Linked DNA regions of Homo sapiens. The protein of the gene in region 4 interacts with the protein of the main gene of each other region in a pairwise test. Each region holds a gene or a part of one and is shown on either strand. Other genes may lie near its edges.

Evidence for each region. Proteins that work in one complex are often made in the same cells at the same time.
Region 1: the proteins of LMNA (region 4) and TUT7 interact in binary tests that used the Homo sapiens proteins (3 or more experiments, as listed by UniProt).
Region 2: the proteins of LMNA (region 4) and FAM3B interact in binary tests that used the Homo sapiens proteins (3 or more experiments, as listed by UniProt).
Region 3: the proteins of LMNA (region 4) and SYCE1 interact in binary tests that used the Homo sapiens proteins (3 or more experiments, as listed by UniProt).

Annotation. Positions count from the first base shown.
Region 1 is NC_000009.12:86,291,911-86,295,410, reverse strand, and holds part of TUT7 (terminal uridylyltransferase 7), read left to right. Parts: exon of another isoform or gene 1-113; intron 114-3,500. UniProt on the Homo sapiens protein: Uridylyltransferase that mediates the terminal uridylation of mRNAs with short (less than 25 nucleotides) poly(A) tails, hence facilitating global mRNA decay. Essential for both oocyte maturation and fertility.
Region 2 is NC_000021.9:41,351,301-41,354,800, forward strand, and holds part of FAM3B (protein FAM3B isoform a precursor), read left to right. Parts: intron 1-3,500. UniProt on the Homo sapiens protein: Induces apoptosis of alpha and beta cells in a dose- and time-dependent manner.
Region 3 is NC_000010.11:133,559,084-133,562,583, forward strand, and holds part of SYCE1 (synaptonemal complex central element protein 1), read right to left. Parts: intron 1,071-3,500; coding exon 1,008-1,070; intron 278-1,007; coding exon 218-277; intron 1-217. UniProt on the Homo sapiens protein: Major component of the transverse central element of synaptonemal complexes (SCS), formed between homologous chromosomes during meiotic prophase. Requires SYCP1 in order to be incorporated into the central element.
Region 4 is NC_000001.11:156,121,211-156,124,710, reverse strand, and holds part of LMNA (lamin), read right to left. Parts: intron 1-3,500.

The sequences.
Region 1 (3,500 bases), on a different chromosome or scaffold from region 4:
TTTTAAAGTTGATATCTAAATCTTTCATTGTAGTTGCAAAGCATGTAATTTCTTGGGGGAGGGGGGCTGTAAATATTGACATTTTAAAATAAAACTTTTAAATCAGCCTTAAATGTATCAAATGAAGTATAAATATTATTGCTTTTTCATACCCACCATCATTTATATACAGCTCAGCTCTTCTTTAACAGGCAAAAATTATATATCATTTCCCTTTCCTCCTTGAATTCCTTTGTTGTACTTCTACAGAATTTCAGCATAAGATGATATATTTTGTTTGTTTGTTTGAACTTCTCCCTGAGATGATATATTTTTATTACACATATTTTCAAATATTTTATTGAGTAGCTTATCATGCTTATCTGCAACAAAAATGACAGGGGCAACAAGCTAGGCCCTATTTTCTATAAATTGAATTTTTAAGCTTTTTATTAAATCTCAAAGGATGAAAATATCTTCTATATTGAGTTTTCACAATTATTAGAATATATAATTGATCAAAACAAATGTTACAAATTTTAATTAAAAATTACTTTTTTTTTTTATACCTAATGCTAAATGACGAGTTAATGGGTGCAGCACACCAACATGGCACATGTATACATATGTAACAAACCTGCATGTTGTGCACATGTACCCTAAAACTTAAAATATAATAATAATAAACAAATATTAAAATAATAATAATAATTACTTTTTATGTTTACTTACAACGACTTTAATAAGAAAGATGAGATTTTTTCCCTATACATTCACATATCTTTGGGTCGACATTATTTACTGCGTGAATGAAACTGTTCCTTTTCTATCCCTAATTTTTTTTTATAGTTGATAAAAATGGAAAAACCCCAATATTCTTTATGATAGCAAATTAAAAATAATAGAAATACTTTGAGTTTGGGAATAGAAGATATATTACAATAGTGCCACTCAATTATTTTGATTCCTTCTTAATTACATGACAAAAAATCACAGTGATGTATCATCAAAAATTATTTGTAATGATCATCCACTATCAATGTAATTTTATGAAAGCTAAAAATTTGGATTTTTATTAGAGGCATTTACATTCACCACAGACACCAGCATTTTGTTTGCCTCTCCTCTTCTCTGGGTTTTTTTTTTTTTTTTTTTTTGCCTCATGGCAATACACCACAGTAGGATTTGGCTGGTTAGGAGATACGCCTTTCTTTTGTAAAGTAGATAAATAATTGTGAAAGGGGAATTAGAAAGGACAGGTGGAGTGATTCCTGAAAACCAGCCTAAGCCTTGACCACAAAGGCATTCACAGACATATAATTTTTAAGAAAGAGTACACATGGAAGTTGAAGAGCTAGAAATTGACTCTCTTAAAACTATCCTTGCGGCCGGGCGCCATGGCTCACGCCTATAATCCTAGTACTTTGAGACACCGAGGCGGGTGGATCACCTGAGGTTGGGAGTTCCGAGACCAGCCTGGCCAACATGGTGAAACCCCATCTCTACTAAAAAGACAGATTTAGTCAGGTGTACTGGTGTGCGCCTATAATCCCAGCTGCTCAGGAGGCTGAGGGCAGGAGAATCACTTGAACCTGGGAGGTGGAGGCTGCAGTGAGCCGAGATCAAGCCACATGCCCTGTCAGGTAGGCTCAGGAACACATGGGCCCAGGTTGGAAGAGCACCATTTATATAAAACACTCTAATGAATAGTCGCATATTTGTCTAGTTATTTCATCAGGATAAATTCCCGCTCATAAGAATGATAGGTTTAAAAGTATGCACATTTTGACAGTGATGCCAATATTCCCAAATTGTGATTGTTGACAATCCCGGAGAGTCAGTGACATTGTTTCCCATACCCTGACTTCATTGGGATAGTCTTTTTTCATTTTACACCTGCTTGAATTCCTATTATTACCATTGAACTTTACCATTTTTTTTTACATGATTTCATCTATCTTTCTTTGTACTTTTGTATTGGAGTATTCTTGACAGGGTCTCACTGTCGCCCAGGCTGGAGTGCAGTGGCTCAATTATAGCTCACTACAGCCTTGAACTCTCAAGCGATCCTCCCATCTCAGTCTCCCGAGTAGCTGGGACCATAAGCTAGTGAGACCACACTCAGCTGATTTTTAAAATTTTTTTGTAGAGACAGGGTCTCGCCATGTTGCCCAGGCTCGTCTTGAACTCTTGGGCTCAGATGATCCTCCTCAGTTTCCAGAAGTGTTGGGATTACAGGCATGAGCCACTCCACCCGGCCCAGTTTATTATTTTAACCTCACTTATATGTGTTTGCCATACAGATGAATGTTTGTTTTAATAGTGTGATCTAGCCAACTTTTGCATGGTTTCTTATCATGCTTACCAAATTTTATAAATGCCATATTATTCCTCTATATTATATAAAAATTCATTCATGTGTTATTTCTAGTACTTTTGTTTTTTTACATGCAAATATTTTATATTCAGGTATAGTGAAGATTTTTCTGATATAGTAGATTACATGTTTAAATGCTACAGTAGTAAAACTACTAGTACTATACTTACCAAAGGGTTTAACATTTTGGGAAAAACAGAAACGGGCAAGTAGCAGTATAACAATAACTAACTTACCTTCTAGAGAATTGGCATTGTTTTTCAATTTTTTTTTTCTTTTAGAGAGAAGGGTTTCACTCTGTCACCCAGGTAGGAGTGCAGTGGCACAATCATAGCTCACTGCAACCTCGAACTCCTGGGCTCAAGAAATCCTCCCACCTCAGCCTCCCAAGTAGCTCACAGGCATGAGCCACCTGTGCCTGGCTCAATCTCTTTTTTTTTTTTTTTTAATAAAAGACCTGTCACTGAGGTAGTGGAAGTGCCTTGAGTACCATCACCAACATCGTTTCCTCTGTCATGTCCCTCTCAACCCTAGAAACATCCATTATTATGAGGTTAAGTCTCCAAGTTTCCTTTTTTTTTTTTTTGAGACAAAGTCTCCCTCTGTCACCCAGGCTGGAGTGTAGTGGTGTGATCTCTGCTCACTGCAGCCTTCACCTCCTAGGTTCCAGTGATTCTTCTGCCTCAGCCTCCCAAGTAGCTGGGATTACAGGTGTGAGCCACTGCACCCAGCCCCTTCTGGTTCATTTTTTATACTCTTTCATATGTACTCCTTAACATATGTTTCTCCTTGGTGAATTTTTAAATTAAAATGGCATATCATGGCATATAATAAGAATGTCCTACAAACCAGGGATGGTGGCACGGGCATGCAGTCTCAGCCACTCAGGAGGCTGAGGCAGGAGGATGGCTTGAGCCCGGGAGATCTGACACTGTAGTATGCAATGATAGTGCCTGTGAATAGTCACTGCACTGCACTCCAGACTGGGCAACAAGCTAGACCTCATCTATTTTAAAACTTTTATATGGTGCTGTTTTTATATTTGGGTTTTTTTCTTTACAGTATTCCACCCTGTGAATAAAAAATATTCTATGTATTTATTACCCAGTTTTAGGTTGTATTCAATATTCTGCTGTTATTAACA
Region 2 (3,500 bases), on a different chromosome or scaffold from region 4:
TGTGTTTGGAAATGGTGGCTCCAAGTGAATTTCAGGAAAATGCCTGTTTTGCCCACCTGTGTCAGCTAAAAGTTATCCAAGTTACTACAGGAGTATAAAGACGAGACCTAAACACAGCAAGCAGTCAGTGCTGGAGAGTTACTAGAGGTTCTGTGGTTTGGGGGCGCTAAAGGATGTTTGCTCAAATGTTGGTGAGGTCTGGACTGGTAGCCAGGGCTTCAAGACAGGTCTTACCGAGACCTTGAGAGAAGTGCCACTGGAGGAATCATTTGTGTCTGTGTTACTTTGGCTATTCAGACTTGCAGGTGGTGTATTTCCCTAAGGGTGGTGTACCCATGTTGGGAGGGCCTCCTGAGTCCTCAGGGGTCTCCCCAGCCCCATGTTCACTCCCACTCCACCTGCTATTCCAGGAGTCAGCTTTCTAGGCACAGCGCCTGGGCCACTCTCATGCAGAGCCTTTAATGACCCCACTACCTGCTGAATTGAATTTTAAAGTATAAGGAACTTCAAAGATTATTCCATCCAACCTCTTGGTTTTATAGGAGGAAGGAAACTGAGAAATAAATAAGGACAGGAGTCTTGGAAGTGAGGGTAACCTGGTTCAGATCTGGACTTGGCCACCCCGACTGCATGACCTGAGTTTGGCACTTCATAGGCCTGCGCCTCTTCTGCACCCTGAACTGTGGGTAGCGGAGCCTGCCTTGCTCCCTGTGTGTGTGACAAGCATGATGCAGCAGGAGGAGCCATCATTCTCATCGCCTCCAGCATGGTCTGAGTCTTGTCTCTGGTGATCCTAACTGGAGCACAGACCCTTGTCTTCAGCCCCACTCAGCCCCTCCCATGCTTTGTGTGCTCAACACTCCAGCAAAGCCTCATGAGTGGCTGCTCTTACCATACCCTGCAGCGCTTTGCCACTATGCTGGCTCTGTTCAGGTCTCGTCTTTATATTCCTGCTGTAACTTTCCACATGTGGACCTCTGCACATGCCTCCCTCCATGCAGGGGGTGCCTTCACAAAGCCTTAAAGATCCACCTCAAGGCTGTTTCTTCTGAGAAGCCTCTCTGGCCCTGCCACTGCTGCCCGTAATGCCCATGGCATTTTGTACCTTCCCTGAGAAAGAAAGGGAAGGGAATGGAAGGAAGGAAAAAGGGAAGGGAGGGGAGGGGAGGGAAGGGAAGGTGCATTATCACATTAGAAAGGAAGAAGTACTTAGGCCAGGCGCAGTGGCTCACCCCTGTAATTGCAGCACTTTGGGAGGTCAAGGCAGGCGGATCACGAGGTCAGAAGTTCAAGACCAGCCTGGCCAACATGGTGAAATCCCGTCTCTACTAAAAATACAACAAATTAGCCAGGCATGGTGGCGGGCGCCTGTAATCCCAGCTACTCAGGAGGCTGAGGCAGGAGAATCGCTTGAAACCAGAAGGCAGAGGTTGCAGTGAGCCAAGATAATGCCACTGCACTCCAGGCTGGGCAACATTAGCGAAACTCCATCTCAAAAATAAATAAATAAATAAATAAATAAATAAAGGAAGAAGTAAAACTATTTCTGTTTGCAGGTGACATGATTTTATGTATACTAGGCTGGTGCAAAAGTAATTGCACCAACTTAATGGAAATCCTAAGAGGTCCACTAAAAAACTATTTGAACTTATACCAAGTTTAGCGAAGTTGCAGGATACAAAAATCAATGGAAAAACTCAATTATACTTCTCTTTACTTGCAATGAACAACCTGAAGATGAAATTCAGAAAGCAATTGTATTTATAACAGTATCAAAAAGAATAAAATTCCTAGGAATAAAGTTAACGTAGGAGATGCAAGACTAATACACTGAAAACAATAAAACATGTTGAAAGAAATTGAGGACTTAAAAAAAGATATTCCATGTTCATGGGTCAGAAATTTTAATATTGTTAAGATGTCAATACTTTCTTAATTGATCTACAGATTTAACACAATTCCTACTAGAATCCAAGTTGATATATTTTGTAGAAATTGACAAGTTCATCCTAAAATTCATATGGAAATTCAAGAGACTCAAATAACAAAAACAGTCTTGAAAAAGAACAAAGTTGCAGGGCTCACATGTTCCAATTTCAAAACATAACACAAAGCTGCTGTGATTGAGATACTGTCACTCTGGCATAAAGATGGGCATACAGAGAAATGAAATAGAATTGAGACTCCAGCAGATGTGCATGTTCTCACATTTTTGATCAATTGACTTTAGGCAACAGTGCCAAGATTATTTAATGGGGAATGAATAGTCTCTTCAACAAATGGTATTGGGAAAGCTGGATATTCACATGGAAAAGAATAGACTTGGACCCTACCTCATACCATATACAAAAATTAAGTAACAATAAATCAAATACGTAAATGTAATGGCTAACACTATTAAACTCTTAGAGGAAAACAGAGGCATAAATTTTTGTGACTTTGGTTTAAGCAATGGTTTCTTAGATATGACACCACTAACAACAAAAGAAAAGTAAGTTGCCCTTCAGCAAATTAAAACTTTTGTCCTTCCAGCAAAAGAAACTATCGAGTAAACAGACAACCTTTAGAATGGGAGAAAATTTTTGCAAAGTACGCATCTAACAAAAGTCTAATATCCAGCATCTAAAGGAACTTAAACAAATTTACAAGAAAAAATATCCCATTAAAAAGACAAAGGACATGAACAGACATTTATCAAAAGAAGACATCCATGTGGCCAACAAGCATATGAAAAAAAGCTCAACATCACTGATCCTTAGAGAAATGCACATCAAAACCATGATGAGATGCCATCTCACACCAGTCAGAATGGCTATTATTAAAAAGTCAAAAAATAACAGATGCTGGCAAGGTTGCAGAGAAAAAGGAATGCTTTTACACTGCTGGTGGAAGTGTAAATTAGTTCAACCTTTGTTGAAGACATGTGGCAATTCCTCAGAGACCTAAAGACAGAAATACTATTTGACCAGCAATCCCATTACTGGGAATATTCCTAACAAATTATATTTGTTATAAGTAAAATTTAATATTCAAAAAGCAAAGGAATAGAAATTGTTATATTATAAAGACACGTACTCACATATGTTCATTACAAAACTGTTCACAATAGCAAAGACATGGAGTCAACCCAAATGCCCATCAATGATAGACTGAATAAAGAAAGTGTGACACATATTCATCATGAAATAATATGCAGCCATAAAAAAGAATGAGATAATGTTCTTTGCAGGGACATGTATGGAGCTGGAGGCCATTATCCTTAGCAAACTAATGCAGGAACAGAAAATCAAGTGTCACACATTCCTACTGATAAGTAGGAGCTAAATGATGAGAATACATGGTCACATAGAGGGGAACAACACACAATAGAGGGGCCTATTGGAGGCTGGAAGGTGGGAGGAGAAAGAGAATCAGGAAAAATAACTAATGGATACTAGGCTTAATACCTGGGTGATGAAATAATCTGTACAACAAACCCCTATGATGCATGTTTACCTATG
Region 3 (3,500 bases), on a different chromosome or scaffold from region 4:
TCTCCTTGCCAGGCTCTGCTGATAGCAGGGCCAGGATCATGGGCATGTAACTATGGCAGTCGCATGCTGAAATGCCCTGTACTTAATTTAAGGCTCTGCTGTTGCTGTTGTGAATAACCAGTAACTTTGGAACAAGGGACCCTGCATTCTCACTTGGCACTGAGCCCCGCAAACCATGCAGCTGGTCCTAGCTGGCAGCCAAGGCCCCTGAACTCACCTTGCTGGACCTCATTAATCCGGTTAATCAGGACCTCAACTCGGGGCTCTAGGCTTCCCACTGCACGGAGGAAAGGAGGTTGAGTTGACAGGGCAGGCAGAGTTGGGGCGGTTGCCAGCCTTGTGTCTCTGCTGCTTTCACGCAACACAGATCTATTGAGTACCTCCTGCAAGCAGGTGCTCTGTGGGGCCCTCACGGGGCTCACGTTCTGGGTGGGCAAGACTGGGAACAGACACAATAAGATACCGAATGGGGCTGCGGTAACCGTGTTCAAGAGAAATGAAGTAGGCCAAGGGAGGCTAAAGAGCAAAGGAGTGGGAAGTGCTCCTGAGATATGGGAAGGGACCTGAGGGCCCCAAATCAAGTGGTGGGGGGCAGGCCCTGCAGCAATTTGGGTGGGGTTGGGAGGTAGTCAGTGCAAAGACCCATCATGAGGTGGGAACATGGCTGGCAGGAGCCTAGCGAGCAAAGAGGGAGTAGCGGGTGAGGGGGAAGGAAGGGAAGTGAAGGCGGCAACTTCTGGATCTAATGGACTGCAGTGGAGCCAGATGGGTGACCAGCGAGAGGTTTGGGACAGGGTTTTGGGAAAACATTTTGCCTTCTATACCCTTTTGCTTCTTTAATTTTGAAACATGGGGCCCTATTTTTAGTTTAAGTAATTAAGTTTTAAAAGAAAGAGAAGGTGAAGAGGATTATTTCCCAAATTCGTACATTGTGGGGCCTGAAATTAAACCCACATCTGCCTGGCCCCAAACCTCAGGCTGTGCCTCACACAAAGGAGACACACGACCTTTCTGCAGCTTTTGCACCATTTCCATCAAGTCTTCAATTTTCTGTGAGGACGTGTCCTGCCCTGTGGAGACAAAACCAAACATTTCAGAATCAAGCAGGGCGAGAGGCCACCCCTGGGCTGAGACTGAGGCAGGCTGAGGGCAGGTCTCCAGCCAGAGTGGTGCCCCTTCTTCTTGTCCTGAGGTGGACAGTACACTAGATGAATCGGGCTCCTCCATGGTCAGCTTTTCCCTATAAGGTAAAATTATACCAGATATCCTCTTTGTAAAACTCTGGGTGAGGGCAGGGGTGCACTCTCACTGCTGAGGCTGTTCAAAGTAAGATCAAAGCTCCTGATATAATTCAAGAAAAAAAATGAGGGTATAAAAAACTGGAGCAAGGAGTCAAAAATCACTGTAACTGGCAGATGACATAATCTAGGAAGTTCTTAGAGAGTTTTCTACAAAACCATAAGGATTAGTAACAAAATGCATTAAGATGTTAGGTTAAAAACATATATAAATACAAACAAGCTTTCCTACATACAACCAATACTAACCCTGAAATTTCCCCATAAAATATTTCATGTTAATTTTTTATAATCACTATTGGAACCTATTTTTAACACTAAAATTAGTAGATCTAAGAAATTACTATTTATGGCATTAACATTGTGAAAGGAAAATAAATCTTTTTATAAATAAATCTTTGAAAATAAATCAATTCAAAGTCATCCCTCTGCTCACTGAGATAAATGCATATCTGATTTTGTAAAATAAATATCTGAAAATAATTCAGTCATCCTTCTTCTTACTCAGATAAATGCATATCTGATTGCCTCCTTTGGAAAGGCTAATCGGAAACTCAAAAGAATACAACCATTTGTCTTTTATCTACTTATGACCTTGAAGCAAACCCCCCTGCTTCAAGTTGTCTCATCATTGCTTTGAGTTGTCCCACCTTTCCAGATCGAACCAATGTTCATCTTACATATGTTGATTTGTGTCTCATGTCTCCCTAAAAAGCATAAAACCAACCTGTGCTCTGACCACCCTGCCACCCTGGGCACAGGTCATCAGGACCTCCTGAGGCCGTGTCACAGGCATGCATCCCTAACTTTGGTAAAATAAACTTCCTAAATTGACTGAGACCTGTCTCAGATTTTTGGGTTTCACATTTTGGCAACCACAAAGGGATTCTGAGTAGAGGTGCCCCTGACCTTTGACAAATATCCTATCAGTGCTTGCTAGCAGCTTGAGCTATCTTTATGGTTCAAACTAATATGACAAGTTGCTGAGTTCTGGAAGTCCCCCATCCAGGGAATCCCTCATTTCCCAAAATTCGCTCCAGATCCAAAGTTTATTTTTCTAAACAACTCTACTCTTTTTTTGGAGTTTTTCTTGCTTCCAACAAGGAAGGCAAGTTTTCCTGCTTCCATGAAAGTTCCTTTCTGGAGTTTGAACTCGCTCCCAACAGGGAAGACAAGTTTGAGGGTTTTTTTCCTGCTTCTAAGATGATAGAGAGCAGTCTTCAGCCTAAGACCCATCCCTAGGTAAGTAACTGAATTGGGGTTTGTCTTGGCTAAAGGTAAAATTAACAACCAGCTGGTCTTAATTTTTCCTTATCATTAGAGTGTCCAGTAACCATACAAGTTGTGTGATCATTTGTTTGTTTTGCTTAACTGGTATTTTTTTTTGTTGTTGTTTCTTTCTGTTTTTGTTGTTTTGGTCCTTTTCCTATTGGGTTTGGCCAATTCTGACTTGATCAAATCCAAAGGAAAGTTCCAAATTATGTGGAACAAGGCCTCTGAAGTGGCTAAATTCCCACCAGAAAAGGGGTGGTGGGGGAAGAAAAAACAGCCAGCAAAAGGAAAAAAGGGGGGGAAGATTTTTGATTTTGACTACTTAAGGGGATTTATTTACATAACAAGGCCACCTTTTTGCTAGCCAGGCCAAACTGAAAGAGAAAGGATTGTCACCCCAACTGCAGTTCCATAGCTAAGGTTCTGTCTTCTTTTTTCCATGACAGCCTGGGTTTGGTTCCTAAATCAAGACCTTTCTGGTTTGATACTTGGTACTTCTGAAATAGCAGATATTTGTCCTAGCTGAAATATGTTGATGAGATCTTAAAAATTTTTTAAAAAGAAACTCAAATGGTTAAAAGTCATCTTAATTAAAAGCTAACATCCAATGTGTGTGTGTGTGTGTGTGTGTGTGTGTGTGTGTGTGTGTGTGTGTGTGTGTGTATTTAAAAGGGCTTCATGATTTTTCTTTTTTCTCTCTCCTAGGACCTTGTGTTTTTTGGGCAAAAGTTTTTTTTCTTTTCAGTTGACTGAATGCTATTTTCTTCATATAGTTCTGCTGTCTCTCCTTTCCCTTGAACGCTCTGCTGCATGAGGGACCTAAAATAGTTTATAATAGCCTGAGGTTCCTTAAAGAAAATGGAGAAGGCACCAGACTCCCTTTTGTGGAGAAAATTGTTTTTCCTTGTGTATCCCCAAGAGTGTAAACAC
Region 4 (3,500 bases):
TGGTTTCTTGGCTAGTCTGTGGGTCTGCCACAACTCGGGTAAGGGCAGGATGTGGAGAATTCCCCTCCCTGGCATTTGAGGTGCTATCCCTCTCTGGAAAGGAGACCTTAAAGAGAGGAACTGAGGCTGGGCGCAGTGGCTCACGCCTGTAATCCCAGCACTTTGGGAGGCCAAGGTGGGTGGATCACGAGGTCAGGAGTTTGAGACCATCCTGGCCAGCATGGTGAAACCCCATTTCTACTAAAAATACAAAAATTAGCCAGGCATGGTGGCGGGCACCTATAGTCCCAGCTACTTGGGAGGCTGAGGCAGGAGAATCACTTGAACCCAGGAGGCGGAGTTTGCAGTGAGCCAAGATCGCGCCACTGCATTCTAGCCTGGGCAACAGAGCGAGACTCCATCTCAAAAAAAAAGAGAGAGAGAGAGAGGAACTGAGGGGGGCAGCTGTTCCAGGGACTTAGAAGCCCCTTGAGCCTTCCCCAAACCCCAACCTGTGAAGTTCTGAATATCATACACCTCAAAAGCCCACAGGTGCCCCAGGATGAAACACCCCGACTCCCTCACGCGGGCATGTGCACCCACAGCAGGCATGGCTCTGCTTCCACACGCTTCCCTTGGGCGTGACACCTGCCAAACAGCCAAATATGCCTAGGGTCTGAGGCCTCTCAGATCCCCTACCAGAGCCACTAGGCTCCCAGCTGTCCTTCCCTAAGACAAAGCCAGGTTTTAATTCCAGGCAGAGGGAGGGGCTGAAGTGGGGAGAACTGGTGCTGAGAGAGGGATAGGAAGCCTGTTGACATGTTCAGACGCAACTCCAGTAGAAGTGCTGGGCCTGGCAGGGGGCCAGGCCTGAGTCACAGCTGCTGGGCGTATCAACGTGGCATTGTACAGAGGCAGGAGAAGCCTGAGGCCGGAGGCCAGGGCACTGGGGTCCTGGACAATGGGCGGCTGGCTTCCTCACCAGCCGCCCCCTGCAAGGTCTCCTGCCAAGTGCCACTTTCCTTCTTCCTGGCCTCTCTCTCTAGAAATCATTCCGGTGTTGTCACAAAAATGCAGGGGTGGGGCTTGGGGATAGAGCAAAAGAAGTAGTGCCTGGAGGAGGGAGGGATGGCCTAAGAAGATAGTAGAATGTCCTGAAGGGGGCGGGAGGGAGGCCAGTGACCAAAACGAGGGACATTTAGGGGATTCCCTTCACAAGAAGCCAATTCAGCAGCCCCTTAACTCTCTATCTGGTGGCACATAGTTATTAACCCTGAGGACACTGGGAGAGAGTGGGAGCCACACCCCAAGGTCAGGAGAAGAAGTGAGGGAGGACCTAGGCAGTCTGGTCTCACTGCATTCCAGCTCTAGCCTCAGAAGACACAGCTCTCTCCTAGCCAGCAGAAGGTGGCAGTGTTAGAGCTTTGGGAAGAAAGGGGAGCCTTGGTGACCCCAAATAGCCTCCTTCTCAACTGCCCAGAACCTAGACCCCTTGAAATGAAGTCTAGCTCCCCTGAGCCAGACCTAAAGGAACTCATGTGTCCTATCTCCCTTCCATTTGTCCCCGTCAAATTCAGACCACTGTCCTTCTTGCTGCAACTTGAATGTAGTTCTCAAGAAAAGGCCACCCCTCAGCCTCTGCTTTTCTGACTGGACAAGCTTAGGGTCTCCTGTCCACTCTCCACTCTGCCCTCTACCATGACTCAGCGCCCCTGCCGGGCCTGGGATCTCAGCCAGAATTATTCCTGGCTTCAGCAGGCAGGATTCCGGCTTCCTCTCTCACAACTTGGGGGAGGCAGGGGTGAAGGGAGGACTCCCCTTCCCAAACTCTTTCCCCTTCCTTAAGGGATTGGTAGGGGCCAAGACCTCCTCCCAGCCCAGCCGCAGGTTGGGGGAGCCAGTATGGGTGCTGGAAGGGTAGAAGGTGGGCAGCCCAAGGTCACCGTGCCCCTCCCCCCGGTTCCAGGCACTGTTCTCTAATCCTGGCCAGCTCTAAGGTAACAGTTCTGCCTCTCCTAGGCCTTCGCCCTAGCCCCCAACCCGGGTCAATGGGAGCCATTCCTGTGCCGCATCTCCCGTTCCTACTCTATGACACAGCCCTTTCCACCGTCCAGAAGGGAGAGGCATCGAAAACGAGTTGCCCTTTCCTAGTAGCAATGAAAACAAAACATTTGCCAAGAGGGTAATGTCACAATTTAACCATTTCTAACAAACTTTCACGGGGAAATAGAGAAATGTGGTAGTATGTTTAATTCCACAGCTTGTGGGAAACATTTCTATTGAGAACAACATTAGCTATTAACTATATTCACATTATTTATATTTGATTTTACTATTAATAACTTGGTATTTTAGAAGACTGTTTTCTCACTTTGTGGGTCACTGTACTACTTTGGAACCTAAAAGGTCTCTGGAGACTTTCCGCTCCAATCCCTTTCTTTTACAGCTAAGGAAAGCCAGAAAGGGGAGGCGATTTGCTCAAGGTCACACAGCAATTTAGTGAAAGGGCCACACACAGAACTAAGGGCACCGAGGGCTAGGGTGTCCACTATATCACACTGCCTGTCATTTTGTTGGTGGACTACCTTGCCCCTTATTTATTTATTTATTATTAGTATTATTTTTTTGAGACGGAATCTTGCTCTGTCGCCCTGGCTGGAGTGCAGTGGCGTGATCTCGGCTCACTGCAACATCTGCCTCCTGGGTTCAAGCGATTTCTGGTTAATTTTTGTATTTTTAGTAGAGACAGGGTTTCACCATGTTGGCCAGGCTGGTCTCTTAACTCCTGACCTGAAGTGATCTGTTCCCCTCGGCTTCTCAAAGTGCTGGGATTACAGGCGTGAGCCACTGCGCCCGGCTTGCCTTGCCCCTTATTGAGGGATAAGAGACCCTGCAATCTTCCAGAGATCTCCTATAATATTAGAGTTCGGCCTATCAGTACACTGGGACCCCAAGGAGGTGAGAATGGAATGAACCCTGCCCTTGTGTCTGGGTCTCTGAAGACTTGGTCTTGGCTGCTGCAGCTGCTAGGGGTGGCGAGGGGCTGGGGAGGAGGGAAGCAAGGGGGAGGGGAGCAGAAAGCACAGTTGGTAGGTGAAGGGATCTACCAGTTGTCCATCCAGCTGTCCTGGGCTTCAGCGCAGACACTAAGCTACCGAATCACTGGGGGGTGGACCTGGAAGTGGGGGCAATGGGCACATCCATGGAAGAGTAAGTCTCAGACTCCTGGAGGCCAGGGGAAGTGCCAAGCAAGGGCACCAATAGTGGGAAGGCAATAGGGGGTCCTAGTGAGGAATTATTCTCTCTTTTGTTTCTCTTGGGCTTTTTAAGTACTTCTCACCCCCCAGGTTTAGCTGCACCCTTCTTCTTTCCCTTTGAATCAGAACGTGGATTTGGGCTAGGCTCAGTGGCTCTCAGCACTTTGGGAGGTCAAGGTGGGTGGACTGCTTAAGCCCCAGAGTTCAAGACCAGCCTGAGTAACATGGTGAAACCTGGTCTCTACTAAAAATAGAAAAATTAGC